Linked DNA regions of Homo sapiens. The protein of the gene in region 2 purifies or fractionates together with the protein of the main gene of each other region. This does not show direct contact. Each region holds a gene or a part of one and is shown on either strand. Other genes may lie near its edges.

Region 1 (3,500 bases), on a different chromosome or scaffold from region 2:
TTCCTATGTTTGAAATCCACCTAATGGGAGTTCTGATTGATGAACAACCTTTATAAATTAATTTCATGGCATTGCTGAAATTTCCAGTTAATTGAGTGTAATGAAAGAATGTGTCAGTAGGTGTTAACACTCCAAATGCCTGGTAAAAAAATTTGTAATGAAAAAGTTCATGTATCAGCTAACGAATTCTGACTGTTTAACATCAACTGGAAAATTAACTAATTTTAAGCAGAAATGAACAAAATGATCTGTAACACTTATATATTTGGAGACACTGACATACCTGAAGCTATGAATGCTCCTGTGTGAGTATTATGTGTACCAGATCACGTATATGTTGAAGAAACACTTAAAATAACATTTACAAACAACATAGATTAAGTTGCATAGCATGTTGCAAGTAAAGTATCTTGAGAAATTCAAACTAGGGTTGGTATCTGTTTTCCCAAACCTTAATAACACAGCAGGGGAAAAATCAACAGTAATTGCTTCAAAGCAACATACAAATCTTTTTTTAAATGAATGCTCTTAACAGAAGGTTTTCATCTGCACAGAGAATGTATGGAAAATTTCAATGATTTGTGGATTGATTATAAACTCAACTAAGTTCAGAGAATAATACAAAAGAGGCCATAGCTCATCACTGTTTTTTTCTCATTTTAAGTCAGATATCAACAAATAGCACACACACTTCAGTAGCAAATGCTCTTCCAATCCTTTTACAATCTTTTAAAACAATGAAGGAAATTACATGTAGAATTAGGCATGATTTAAAAGTCAACATTGTCACAGTTTTCACAGGGATGTAAGTTATTCATTAAAAAAAATACAGGCTGGGCACAGTGGCTCATGCCTGTAATCCCAGCACTTTGGGAGCCCGAGGTGGGCAGATCACGAGGTCAGGAGATCGAGACCATCCTGGCTAACACGGTGAAACCAGGTCTCTACTAAAAATAAAAAAAATTAGCTGGGCGTGGTGGCGGGCACCTGCCGTTCCAGCTACTCAGGAGGCTGAGGCAGGAGAATGGCATGAACCCAGGAGGCAGAGCTTGCAGTGAGCTGAGATCGCACCACTGCACTCCAGCCTGGGCGACAGTGTGAGACTCCATCTCAAAAAAAAAAAATTATGTTTTGGTCAAAACCATAAATGTGGTGAAGCCACCTGATACCTTGTGAATGTTATAATTTGTCAAAAAGATGGTAGTTTAAAAATCCTAAGGGCCAAGCACAATGGCTATGCCTGTAATCCCAGCACTTTCGGAGGTCAAGATGGGAGGACTACTTGAGCCTAAGAGTCTGAGATCAGCCTGGCCAACACAGGGAGACCCCCATCTCTACAAAAAATAAAAAAATAAAAATTAGTTGGGTGTGGTGGCATGCGTCTGTAGTCTCAGCTACACAGGAGGCTGAGATGGGAGGAAAACTTGAGCCCAGGAGGTTGAGGCTGCAGTGAGCTGAGATCGTGACACTGCACTCCAGCCTGGGTGACAGTGAGACTCCATCTCAAAAAAAAAAAAAAAAAAAAAAAAGATTCCTAAGGACTGACTGAAAGAGTTACATTTGCTTTCTAATATTTGGTATGTTTGTCTAGACCATGAGTGACTGGGAGTAATATTAGACTACTGAGAACAAATATTAGAACTGAGAAATCAACGTGAAGGAAGTGTGTCTTTTGCATGACCAGGCCCTGCTCAGAGAAGGGCACATGTTATACATACCTAGAAAGAATAATGGCACCTCGATTTACACTAGCCCAGGACTTCAGGTTCTTCATACCAACATGCTCTACAAGTGTTTTTGCAAAACAACCTGTAAAATATACTGAAGCTTAGTGAACATCACATAATAAGATATATACTCCCTACCCCCTTCTCTACTGCCCTTAAATCTGCAAATATTTTTAAACAAAAAAGCTAACAAAAGTAGCTTTCACCCAATCTCCCTTTTAACACAAAAAATTCCAGTGCAGGTTTATCTAATGCATTTCTAAAAGAGCCATTTCTTTTAACTCTGATCCAAAACCTAAGCTATGTTTAGCAGTAATTACTCAAGATAAACTATGAATTCTAATAAAACACTCACTTGGTTATGTCTGCACTTCTTTGTATTATTTAATGATTTAACTTTGACCTGAAAGCTATTCAGGAAATAAATGTTTCACAGTAGCACCTCATGCTTGGTTGAAATCAAGTTCTTCCTCATGGAGAAATGCTCACTCACAAGGTGCCATGAACATAACACAGTGTTCACGTGTTCAACAGTGGTTGATAAATGACTGTTCTAGCTTAAACTTGGCATTTCTCTTTACAACGCTTACATACTCACAAATCAAAAATACCATTTTTCTCCCGTTATTCTAGTATTTGATTCCCAAGGTCGTGGTATTATCTTTTTCACTTTGCAATTAATGCTTGGACAAAGGAGAAATTCTGATAGCTAAGATTTAGTGCAGATGGAGGTAGGGACAACCTATCTTGAAGGCAAACATCATAGTCAGGTAGCATGTACTATATAATTCATTCAAAGATACCTGAATGTAAGGACTCTTTAAAAGCCAAGAGGCCTATGGCTATTCAGCCTTTCATGGTACCTGCTAAAGAGGGACAGAGTTCAGCTAGTGAGGCAAATTGTTTTCCAAAGCTGACCACAATAATATCTCCTGTCCTGTGTGCTCTTCTAGAATGCAGCCACTCCCCCATCTATAGGGGGAATCCATGTCTTCTTTTGAATCACAGTGGGCCTCTGTGATTGACTTGACCAAGACAGTATGATGAAAGTGGCATTAAATGACTGCTAAGGATAAATCATGGAAGTGCCACGCATTTACTTTGTCCTCTTGGGATGCTCACTCTTAAAAAAGCAACCACCATCTCGTGAAGGAGCCCAAGCAGCCTAGAAAGGGAAACTGAGGCTGTTGGTCCCCAGCCAACAGTCAGTACTCACTTGCCAGCCATGTGAGTGAGCTAAGCGAAAAGTGGACACTCCAACCACAAACCGAGCAGCCCTAGATGACTCTGACTCTGAGCATAGAGGGGCAGGCTCCACCAGACCCTGATCAAGTCATTGTTTTGAAAACTACTAAGTTTTAAGGTGGCTACTATCCAGTAAAAGAGAATCAAAACAGCTAGACGTGCAGGAGGACAAACTCATTTGGTGCTGAATACGACAAGACAAACACATCAGACCCAAACTGGCAGATTTTAGGGTTCTCAGCACATTTTAATTAAGAGGGAGAAAAACCACTGGACATTAAGCCAGACTACTTTTCTGGCATAAACTCAACTATACATCAACTTTTTAATAATGAAAAAGATTATTCCATATGTTATTTTTTTCTTTAATATTTATCACAAGGCTTCTCTTTTACAAAAAAATTTAGTGAAAAATAGCCCCAGGTCCCCATTCTTAAAGGTAAGGTGAGAAGTGACAGCTCTACTGCTATACTGATTGCCACACTAGCCATCAGAGCTGCCACTTGCCGCAAGACATGAATTCATGAT
Region 2 (3,500 bases):
TTTTTAGTAGAGACGGGGTTTCTCCTTGTTGGTCAGGCTGGTCTTGAACTCCTGACCTCAGGTGATCCGCCCGCCTCGGCCTCCCAAAGTGCTAGGATTACAGGCGTGAGCCACTGCACCCATCCTTTTTTGTTTTGTTTTGTTTTGTTTTGTTTTTTGAGACAGAGTCTTGCTGTGTTGCCCAGGCAGGCTGGAGTGCAGTGGCACAATCTCAGTTCATTGCAACCTCCACCTCCCAGGTTCAAGCAATTCTCCTGCCTCACCCTCATGAGTAGCTGAGATTACAGGTGCGTGCCACCATACCCGGCTAATTTTTTGTATTTTTAGTAGAAATGGGGTTTCACCATGTTGGTCAGTCTGGTCTCGAACTCTTGACCTCAGGTGATCCATCCACCTCAGCCTCCAAAAGTGCTGGGATTACAGGTGTGAGCCACCATGACTGGCCTGACTAAACTTTTGAAACATTCCATTGTAGGTTCTTCCTAAAACATTATGAGACCAGATTCTGTTATTTCTATTATACAGAAGAGGAAGCTTCTTTTAAGGAGATAATCTGATTTGTTTAACTTACATGTTCTGTTTTAAGTTACTGAAGTAAACCCACTATTTAACTAAAGACTGTAATACTCTTAGATTGCCATTTATTAGCCAGTTGAGGTAGTGTGTGCCTGTAGTCCTTGCTACTCAGGAGGCTGAGGCAACAGGATCTCCTGAGCCTAGGATTTCAAGTTTGCAGTGAACTGTGATTGTACCATTGCACTCCAGCCTCAGCAACAGAGCAAGACCGTATCGCTAAAAAAGAAAAAGATTGTCATTCAGAGGTGACACTGCCAGAATTAAGTCTTTGGTTTACTGTATGCTATAAGTAGATACCAAAACACTGACCCTTTCCTCCATCTGTCACAGTGAGGAGAGCTATGTCTTTTATTATAGATCAAGAATGAAGCTTATTATGGTATGGCTAGTATAGGTAAAGGTCTCATTCTTTTCTTTTTTTTTTTTTTTTTTGAGATGGAGTCTCCCTCTGTTGCCCAGGCTGGAGTGCAGTGGCACTATCTCAGCTCACTGCAACCTCCGCCTCCCAGGTTCAAGCGATTCTCCTGCCTCAGCCCCCACGAGTAGCTGGGACTACAGGCACACACCACCACACCCAGCTAATTTTTTGTATTTTTTTTAGTAGAGATAGGGTTTCATCACCATGTTAGCCAGGCTGGTCTCGAACTCCTGACCTCATGATCCACCCACCTTGGCCTCCCCAAGTGCTGGGATTGTAGGCGTGAGCCACTGCGCCCAGCCAATTTACTAGGTTTTTAACCTTATCCAGAAACTAGATGACCGTGTTACCCTCCTTTGCCTCAATTCTCGGTGGTTAATTTTTTGCCCAAATCCCAAATACTGTCTTTAATAGTATTAGAATATTTCGCCAAGGCCTTAGGCCCTGGTACTCTTGTGAACCATTTGGGAACTGAGACAGTGAAACTTGAAAAGAGGCATGTGAGCACTGCTTTTCCTGTACCCTGTTTGTGACTTAGGAGATGGGGGTGGCCTGCCTTTGCACATTCTTCCTGCTTCCACCCTCCTGAATTCAGGATTCTGTGAATCAGTGAGCTCCAGGTTTTGGCCTTCCCTTCAACCTCTGCAGCTCTGTCAATTCCTCTACTGGGTTTTTCCTAGTTTTGCCCTTTACTTGAGATAATTCACTGTATTTATGAGTTTTGATTTTTTAAAATGAAATGCTCTTGTCATTTAGGGAGGATTTACTGATAATATATATGAGGATCTAATGCTAAGTTTAGAAAGAAAAGATATGAGTGTCAATTTCTAACTTCTTTATTAAAGATTTTACAGAAAACGGAAAGTATTTCAAAAACTAATCGTCAGACGTCTACAAAAGGCCAGGTAAAATTTTTTTTATCATTTTACATGCAAGATATTAGAGAAGGATAAGTAGGAAAACATATTCAAGACTACTGTAGCTGATCAATATTCAAATTGATGTGTTTTAAAATTTATTTTAAGGTTTTACGTAAGAAGAAGAAAAAAGTTTCAGGTACTCTTGACACTCCTGAGAAGACTGTGGATAGCCAGGTAAAATGGTTTTCAATACTCCAGACACCAGATATTATAGAAATAATTTGAAGGAGGAGAAGCAGTTTCTGCTACTCTCATTTTAAGATTTCAAATTAAATATTGTGACATTTGGTAGATCTTTATTGTTGATTTAGCAATTTTCTGCCTAAAACCTTATAATGGAACATGCTATATTTGTTAATTGTGAATTTCTGTACCAAGTTTGATAAGCATCTAAGTTCTTTATTCTTTGCAATAGTATCACCAAAAGATGGTAACAGAGCTAAAATAATGGGGCACAACTTGTAAAAATAGAGGAGAGATGATATTTTTGGGTAAAGTCATAATCATGTTTTACATTTATGTATTATAATCTTTACTTGTTGAATCCAGGGCCCCACACCAGTTTGTACACCAACATTTTTGGAGAGGCGAAAATCTCAAGTGGCTGAACTGAATGATGATGATAAAGATGATGAAATAGTTTTCAAACAGCCCATATCCTGTGTAAAAGAAGAAATACAAGAGACTCAAACACCTACACATTCACGGAAAAAAAGACGAAGAAGCAGCAATCAGTGATTTTCAATGTATTATATTTCTTTTGAAAAATATAATATTTTTATGAGAGTGGACTTTGTATTTCACTAGGTACAATGGAATACAACCTTTGACAAGATTTTCAGAGGAAAAATACACTGTTTGGTCAAGTTAAGGAAAGCAGTGTGTAATTTTGGATTGCCTGCCCTTGGCTGAAATACAGGGGTGCATACCATCTTGCAGTGGCTTGGCTGACATTGCCTCTTTGTCCTGGCCTCTAGTTTTCTTTTGATATTTCATAGCTCTCCTTAGTTTACTCTGCCTGGATAGAAAGTTGACCACTAACTGCAGGTTTAAGTACTAAACTGCAGCCTTTTCTGTCGCCAGCAATTAAAGACCACCAATCTTGTTTGTCCATCTACATGGTTTGTCGGGGACATTTAACTCATGGAGGTGCTTTAGATTTCAACATCAGATGGTTGAAGCTGGAAGTTTAATTATATGTAGAGTGAGAAGGCAGTTCCAGTTTTAGCACAGATTTGTTTATGTGTTCAGATTTTAATAGAGATTCAAAAATGACTCATTTTTACCAATAATGTTAAATTAGTTTTGGTTGTGCTAGCATGAATTAATAACCACCATTTTATACCAGTATCATCAGTGAAGAATTGTATTTCAAGATTCAAACAATAACCAGCAATTAAACTTTTTTCTACAATGTATTTGTTTGCGAGTAGGACTTGGGAGTCATTGGGAAAAAAAAATAATAAATTTTCCCCTTCATTAACGAATTCAGACTCATTAAAAACATTGCCATCAGATGTAGTAGCTTGTGCCTGTAATCCCAGCACTTTGGGAGGCTGAGGCAGGAGGATCACTTAAGGCTAGGA
Region 3 (3,500 bases), on a different chromosome or scaffold from region 2:
CTTTCTACATAGCCACCACACCTGGGATAAGATGGAGTAAAAAAATAAAGAATTAGAACTATGTTTCCAGTTAGACTATCAGGAATCAAAACAGGCATTCTGGAATCATCTGCACCCTACCTGGAAGCTAGGACATCTCTACGGCAATAACTTCTTTTTTTTTTTTTTGAGACACAGTCTCGCTCTGTCGCCCAGGCTGGAGTGCAGTGGTGCCATCTCAGTTCACTGCAACCTCCGCCTCCAGGTTCAAGCGATTCTCCTGCCTCAGCCTCTTGAGTAGCTGGGATTACAAGCATGCACCACCACACCTGGCTAATTTTTGTATTTTCAGTAGAGACGGGGTTTCGCCATGTTGACCAGGCTGGTCTTGAACTCCTGACCTCAGGTGATCCACCTGCCTCCTCGGCCTCCCAAAGTGCTAGGATTACAGGTGTGAGCCACCGCACCTGGCCGGCAATAACTTCTTTAGGCACAGTACTTGATAAGTCAATATATAAATCACAGTCAGTTTAATAAATAGCCCACAGATGCTGAACAGTGATATAACCAAGGAGGAATCTAGATACCAACCTGCATCTATCAGCAATTATCTCAGGGACATTTTTCACTAGGGATTTAAAAGGACACTCTCACCAGATAAAAGAAAGAATACTGGCAAGGGTTCTTTCAAGTTTAACCCCAAGATCAAGTTCTAGAGTATTTCACCTAAATAGCTACCGTATTAGCAATGAGACTCTTAATAATGCAAACATCTTTTGAAAATGCAGAAAGTGGGTTACTACACTAATTCACCAAAACACCAGAAATATCTGGGTCAATGATATGGGTATAGAAAGCTTACCTTTTATCTCTTTCATGTTCATGCCTTTGAGAGCTTTACCTGCTTCTAGGAGGTTTTTGAACTGAACAAAACCAAAACCGCGCATCTTCCCATCTGTGTGCAAATGCACAAAGAAAGAAGTGAGAGGCAGCAGGAGGTAGCCAGAATACTAAGAAGTAAATTACTGCAATTCAGGCCCACAAGATGGCCCAAATTCTGCCAGCAGGTCAGGCCCTTCCCCAAAGCAATTGCTTACATCTTCTTACTGAGTATACTCTGACTTGGACTTGGGGAGAGCAAAACACTTTCTCAAACTAACTCGCCTTCTAAAACTAATTCTGATCCAACAGAAAATATCATCAGGGGAATAAAACCATTATTTGGGTTTTCATTAGATGTGAAGCACTGTGCCAAATACTTCATATATATCATATATGTTTGTTCAAGGGTAATATGTTAACTAACGTAATCCACACCAAGTGAAGGTTTATTAGTACCTGGTTTCCTAGGGATATTTACTTCCAGGACAGCTCCAAATTGAGCAAATACTGTCTTCAAGTCATCTTCTGAACACTGAAGCCAAAAGTGAAGAAAGAAAAAGAGAAACACAATCACAGCAAATTAACATAAAACATCAACTACTAAATTCATTAATTATGAAAAACATGAATGTTTACTTTTTTTTATTTTTGATACTAGGACATCAAATGTTTCTAAATAGAAGACATTTTACTTTGTACCTAAGAGGCAAAAACACAGACGTCTGAGAACTTTTTCTACCTTTTCTTTCTCAGTAGTAGTTTCCCCAAAAAGGAAAGCAGCTTCACACTTAGTGCCCTTATTACACAGGCCCACTTTCTGAATTCAACAGGGGTAAGGTTGATTCCCAGAAGGAATTAAGCCCAATTATACCATCTTGGTGAGGAGTTCTACTAATGATCACATCTTGGCTCTAAAAGCCTTCAAAACATGCAATGTTCATTTTCTCTCTCACTTACCTTAAAGCTCAGGTTCCGAATAATTAATCTGGCTTTCTTATCTGCCACTTTGGCTTTTTTAGCCTTCGGCTCCTTCTTTGGGCACTCTGAGTTTTCTAAAAAATAAGAGGTAATGGAATAAGTACTCGAAAATCACCCACTTCTACGCCAGAACATCACAGAAAAAAAAGCTACTGGCGACAGATGGCATTTACCACAGGGTTAAGTGTGGCAATAATACCAAGGAATACCAGATTTTTCCAAAGAACTAAAATGAGTATCACAATACACTGGATGATTTTGGAGATCAAAAAGAAATGCAAAAAGCTTTAAGTTCTAGAAGCTACCTCCATGCCTCCCTCTTTCATTTTCATAGTGCTCCTCCTCACCCTGGGAGAAAAACTTCCTTCAATTACTAGAAACTCACCATTTTTCCCCTTTTCCTTTGTCTTGTTCCTCAGTTTTTTCTTGGCAACAGTCACGTTGATCTTGCAACCTTCAAAGGTGGTAATCTCCTTGAGGGCCCTCTGAACATCTTCCAGCATTGAAAAAGTGACATAGCCAAAGCCTCGACATGCCTTACTCCCTGGAATAATGGAGTGGGGAGGGAGTGGAGGGGCAGTGTGAAAAGGAGAGAGAATCATAAGCCAAGAGCACTAAATGAGTAAATCCTCAAAGCCTAAGCTAGAGGATATACTGCCAACCCATCTTGCTATCAGTTTGCCAAAAGTCTCAGGAGGGCGAGAAACAAGGGTGGTATCAGTGGTTCCCTCCCCACTTTGCTTAGAAACTGTTAGCCTTCCTCCTCTTTTAATTTAGTGTCTTTGCTGTTAGCTCCCCTTCTTCCCCCTTTCTTGATAATCCCAAGAAAACAGAGAATCCATGACATATGAGGCCCTCAAAGAACTCAACATCAAAAAGAACAAAACATCACCAAAGAAGGCAGGAAAGGTAAGTATATGCTATGGTTTGAATGTGTCCCCCAAATTTCATGTGTTGGAAACTTAATCCCCAATGTAGCAGTATTGAAAGGTGGAGTCTTTAAGAGGTGACTGGATCAGAGGACTCTGTCTTCAGGAATGGATTAATCAATTTATGGATTAATGGGTTAATAGATTAATGGGCTATCATGAGAGTGGAGCTGGGGGCTTTATAAGAAGAGGAAGAGAGACCTGAGCAAGCACATTAGCATGCTCAGCCCCCTCGCCATGACACCCTGCACTGTCTGGGCATTTTGCAGAGTCCCCACCAACAAGAAGGCTCTCACCAGATACAGCCACTAAACTTTGGACTTCTCAGCCTCCAGAACTTAAGAAATAAATTTTTCTTTACAAAGTACCTAGTTTCAGGTATTCTCTTATAAGCAACAGAAAATGAATTAAGACAGTATGGTAGCTTCAAAAATCAGAACACAATAATGCAGTTACTCCTCAAAATAGATCAGCAATAAATGCCTGAGGCCCAGACAAAAGAACCTCAAACAATAAATACTGCTCAGAGAGACTGCAGATGTTATGACCACTATTACCAACGCCTTAGCTGTCGATATCAAATTAAACCTTTCCAAAGCAGCTGTGCATTCTTGTCTCATTTTATCTTTAGAACACCTCAAAATAGGTAAAGCAAATATTATCACCCCTTCTTTCCAAGTAAGTAATTTGAGATGGAAGACAGTAAGTGAATTGGTTAATGTCACACAGGGT
Region 4 (3,500 bases), on a different chromosome or scaffold from region 2:
TCAGAAATGAAATAAAATCCTTTGATTTGACTTCTTCATCTTACTCATAGATTTATGTATGTATAAAAGTAATTATAATTGGCTTTTTCTTTGAAACAGTATGTTTATACGATTAACAAGTTCTTATCTAAGACTGTAGGAGTTAAACCAACCCATTCAGAATCAACTTTTCCTCATAGCACAGACATTTACTAACTTCCTTACATTGAAGTGAACTTTAAAATCTTAAAATAACAAAACCACAACTTTCTGAATACCCTATGTCTAAACAGCTCTGGATCTGGAAACACTGGTGGAGGAGAACTGGGGAATACAGGCAGGATAAAGTGATGGTGGAGCAGCCAGGCGTGGTGGCTCACGCCTGTAGTCCCAGCACTTTGGGAGGCTAAGGCAGGCAGATCACCTGAGGTCAGGAGCTCCAGACCAGCTGGCCAACATGGTGAAACCTCATCTCTACTAAAGACACAAAAAATTAGCCAGGCGTGGTGGCACATGCCTGTAGTCCCAGCTACTCGGGAGGCTGAGGCAGGAGAATCGCTTAAACCCAGGAGGCGGAGGTTGCAGTGAGCCGAGATCGCGCCACTGCACTCCAGTCTGGGCGACAGGGCGAGACTCCGTCTCAAAAACAAACAAACAAAAAAAGAAATCAGGGACATGTATTTTAATTTTCAACTAAAATTTTTTCTTCCACTTAAAACTGCTAATTTTCAGCTAGTTAGAAAACTTGTCAATTCAAAACAGCTCATGGCATATCCGATAGATTCAAATCACCCAAGTACTACTATACACTGCCAAAAGCACCTTTTAATTAACTGAAGCACCTTTTAATTAACTAAAAATAATTTTTAAAATTGATGCATAATAGATGTACATAGTTTCAGGGTGCATATAATAATTTAATATTGTGCCTTTTTATTCACAAGCGTCCTAATGAATTTTTTGAGTGGTACATAAAATTAAGATTTCCAAATAACTATGTATAATTACCTATGTTGTTATTTCATTAAAGAATTAAGTACAATGTCATACTTTTCTGTGTAGATGATCTGATCTTAATCATTTCAGTGAGTATGTTTACTGGAAGATCAAACTGATTTAAGGAAATATTCTCTAGCTTTTAGTTATCTGCAAACAGAACCCAGTTCTTTCTCTCTCAGATGGGCTCAAGCTGGTAGATATGCTAACTGGTAATTTCTACATATTTTTAAATATTATTTGTCTATTTCTTGAGGAAGAGTGACATTACCACTACTGTTCAAATTGTAATTTCCTCATTTTTCTCCCTCTCATACACTTCTCTGGCTGAAAGTCTGTTTTCATTAAGTAAACTCCTCAATTAGAATGTTATGTTTGCTTTTCAAAGTATGCTACCACTTTGTTTTGCATATTTCCCCCCATAAGGCCTAACCATTGTGCAAAGGCACATGTGGCATTACTAACGATTTTGTTTCATATTAATGGCTCTGACTCCATAGTGAATAAAATTTCCCAACGGATATAAATAGTCACTCACATACAAGGAATAATTACTATAGGATGTATAGGAACAGTGGTCAATAACACTATGATTTATTCACCCAAAAGATCATGTTAAAGGTTATATTAATATAATTTCCTGTTTAGAGTTCCTTTCATCCAAAAAGCTCAAAACCATTTTATAAACCTCATTTATCTTCACAAATAAAGTGTGTGAATATTAAATATTACCATTTTCAAATTGCATAAGGGCTAATTTGCAGTAAGAGCGAGGGAAAGGGTTCCACAGTATAGCTAGCCCAAAGAATGCCTGGGGAGCCAAGTTAAGTCAGACATACTTTCTGGTATATGCCCATCTATGAGTACCCCTTTACTCTTATAAAGCAGTACTGTCAATCTTAGGGGGACCTCAGAATTATCTAAATGGTATTGCTATAGTTTACAGAGGAAGAAACAAAGACCCTGAGAAGTGGTGACCTGCCCATGTCACGTGGCTGAGCCCAGCTCAGAGCCAGGTCAGTAGGCTCAGAGGTGATGCTGAATCCCTGGACCACCCCTTCCTCCCATCCTCAATGCTCCCCAAGTGTGGCACAGCCTCTGGAAGCTAAGCTGATCCACATGTTTAGTGATTCTTTCAAGTAGCAGCTCACTCTCAATCACAGTGTCCATTTTTTATTTCAAATTAATAGCTAACAAGTATTACAAGGCACATATGGAACATCTAGTGATCAAAATTACATACTAGGGTCTCTGATTTTAAAATTTCAAACTTTTTTTCATTATGAAAGATGTCGTGCTAGTGTAAAGGTGATTCTAGCAATCAGATTTTTGGTGGATCTATGTATTATAGTTACACTGCTAGTTTTTTATTTTTGTTTTTATTTTTATTTTTTTGAGACAGAGTCTTGCTCTGTCACCAGGCCGGAGTGCTGTGGCACAATCTAGGCTCGCTGCAATCTCCGACTCCGTGGTTCAAGCAATTCTCCTGCCTTGGCCCCCTGAATAGCTGGGATTACAGGCATGCGCCACCATGTCCAGCTAATTTTTTGTATTTTTAGTATAGATGATGTTTCACCGTGTTAGCCAGGATGGTCTCGATCTCCTGACCTCGTGATCTGCCCACCTCAGTCTCCCAAAGGGCTGCTGGGATTACAGGGATGAGCCACCGTGCCCGGCCTTACTGCTAGTTTATTCTTTTTTTTCTCTTTTTTTGAAATGGAGTCTCGCTGTCACCCAGGCTGGAGTGCAGTGGTGCGATCTTGGCTCACTGCAACCTCTGCCTCCCGGGTTCTCCTGCATCAGCCTCCTGAGTAGCTGGGATTACAGGTGCACACCATGTTGCCCGGCTAATTTTTATATTTTTAGTAGAGACGGGGTTTCACCATGTTGGCCAGGCTGGTCTCAAACTCCTGACCTCAGGTGATCCACCCATCTTGGCCTCCCAAAGTACTGGATTACAGGCATGAGCCACCACGCTGGGCCAGTTTATTCTTGCTCTAAAGTCTGACTTGATAATTCTCTATTTTGTTTTATTTTCTCTGTATCTTTCTTTACAAATAAACCCTTTTCACTAAATACAAGTGAATACTTTCTGCGAAACCGTTCAACACAGAAGAGTTTTAGGCTACTGTTACCACTCATTTCTTACTGTCAATGATTTTTTACCGTTATATTTTTATCTCCCTTGTATCCCCTCTATGTTTAACACAGAGGGCATACATACCCACCCGAGGCAGGAGAATCGCTTGAATGCGGGAGGCAGAGGTTGCAGTGAGCTGAGATGATGCCACTGTACTCCAGCCTGGGCAACAGCAAGATCCTGCCTCAAAAAAAGAAGTGTTCCAGGTCAGGCGCGGTGGCTCATGCCTGTAATCTCAGCACTTTGAGAGGCCAAGGCAGGTAGATCACGAGGTCAGGAGATTGAGACCATCCTGACTAACATGGTGAAACCCTGTCTCTACTAAAAATACAAAAATAAAATTAGCCGGGCGTGGTGGCGGGTGCCAGTAGTTCCAGCTACTTGG

What was found. Proteins that work in one complex are often made in the same cells at the same time.
Region 1: the proteins of NIFK (region 2) and PUM3 purify together in Homo sapiens (affinity purification with mass spectrometry; 4 studies listed by BioGRID and IntAct, with this or other methods). This does not show direct contact.
Region 3: the proteins of NIFK (region 2) and RBM28 purify together in Homo sapiens (affinity purification with mass spectrometry; 4 studies listed by BioGRID and IntAct, with this or other methods). This does not show direct contact.
Region 4: the proteins of NIFK (region 2) and RPF2 purify together in Homo sapiens (affinity purification with mass spectrometry; 4 studies listed by BioGRID and IntAct, with this or other methods). This does not show direct contact.

What each region holds. Positions count from the first base shown.
Region 1 is NC_000009.12:2,806,096-2,809,595, forward strand, and holds part of PUM3 (pumilio homolog 3), read right to left. Parts: intron 1,810-3,500; coding exon 1,719-1,809; intron 1-1,718. UniProt on the Homo sapiens protein: Inhibits the poly(ADP-ribosyl)ation activity of PARP1 and the degradation of PARP1 by CASP3 following genotoxic stress. Binds to double-stranded RNA or DNA without sequence specificity. Involved in development of the eye and of primordial germ cells.
Region 2 is NC_000002.12:121,726,876-121,730,375, reverse strand, and holds the end of NIFK (MKI67 FHA domain-interacting nucleolar phosphoprotein), read left to right. Parts: intron 1-1,815; exon of another isoform or gene 1,816-1,839; coding exon 1,840-1,899; exon of another isoform or gene 1,900-2,019; coding exon 2,020-2,088; exon of another isoform or gene 2,089-2,463; coding exon 2,464-2,652; 3' UTR 2,653-3,431; downstream 3,432-3,500.
Region 3 is NC_000007.14:128,337,409-128,340,908, forward strand, and holds part of RBM28 (RNA-binding protein 28), read right to left. Parts: intron 2,384-3,500; coding exon 2,225-2,383; intron 1,914-2,224; coding exon 1,819-1,913; intron 1,394-1,818; coding exon 1,318-1,393; intron 935-1,317; coding exon 842-934; intron 1-841. UniProt on the Homo sapiens protein: Nucleolar component of the spliceosomal ribonucleoprotein complexes.
Region 4 is NC_000006.12:111,020,038-111,023,537, reverse strand, and holds part of RPF2 (ribosome production factor 2 homolog), read right to left. Parts: intron 1-3,500. UniProt on the Homo sapiens protein: Involved in ribosomal large subunit assembly. May regulate the localization of the 5S RNP/5S ribonucleoprotein particle to the nucleolus.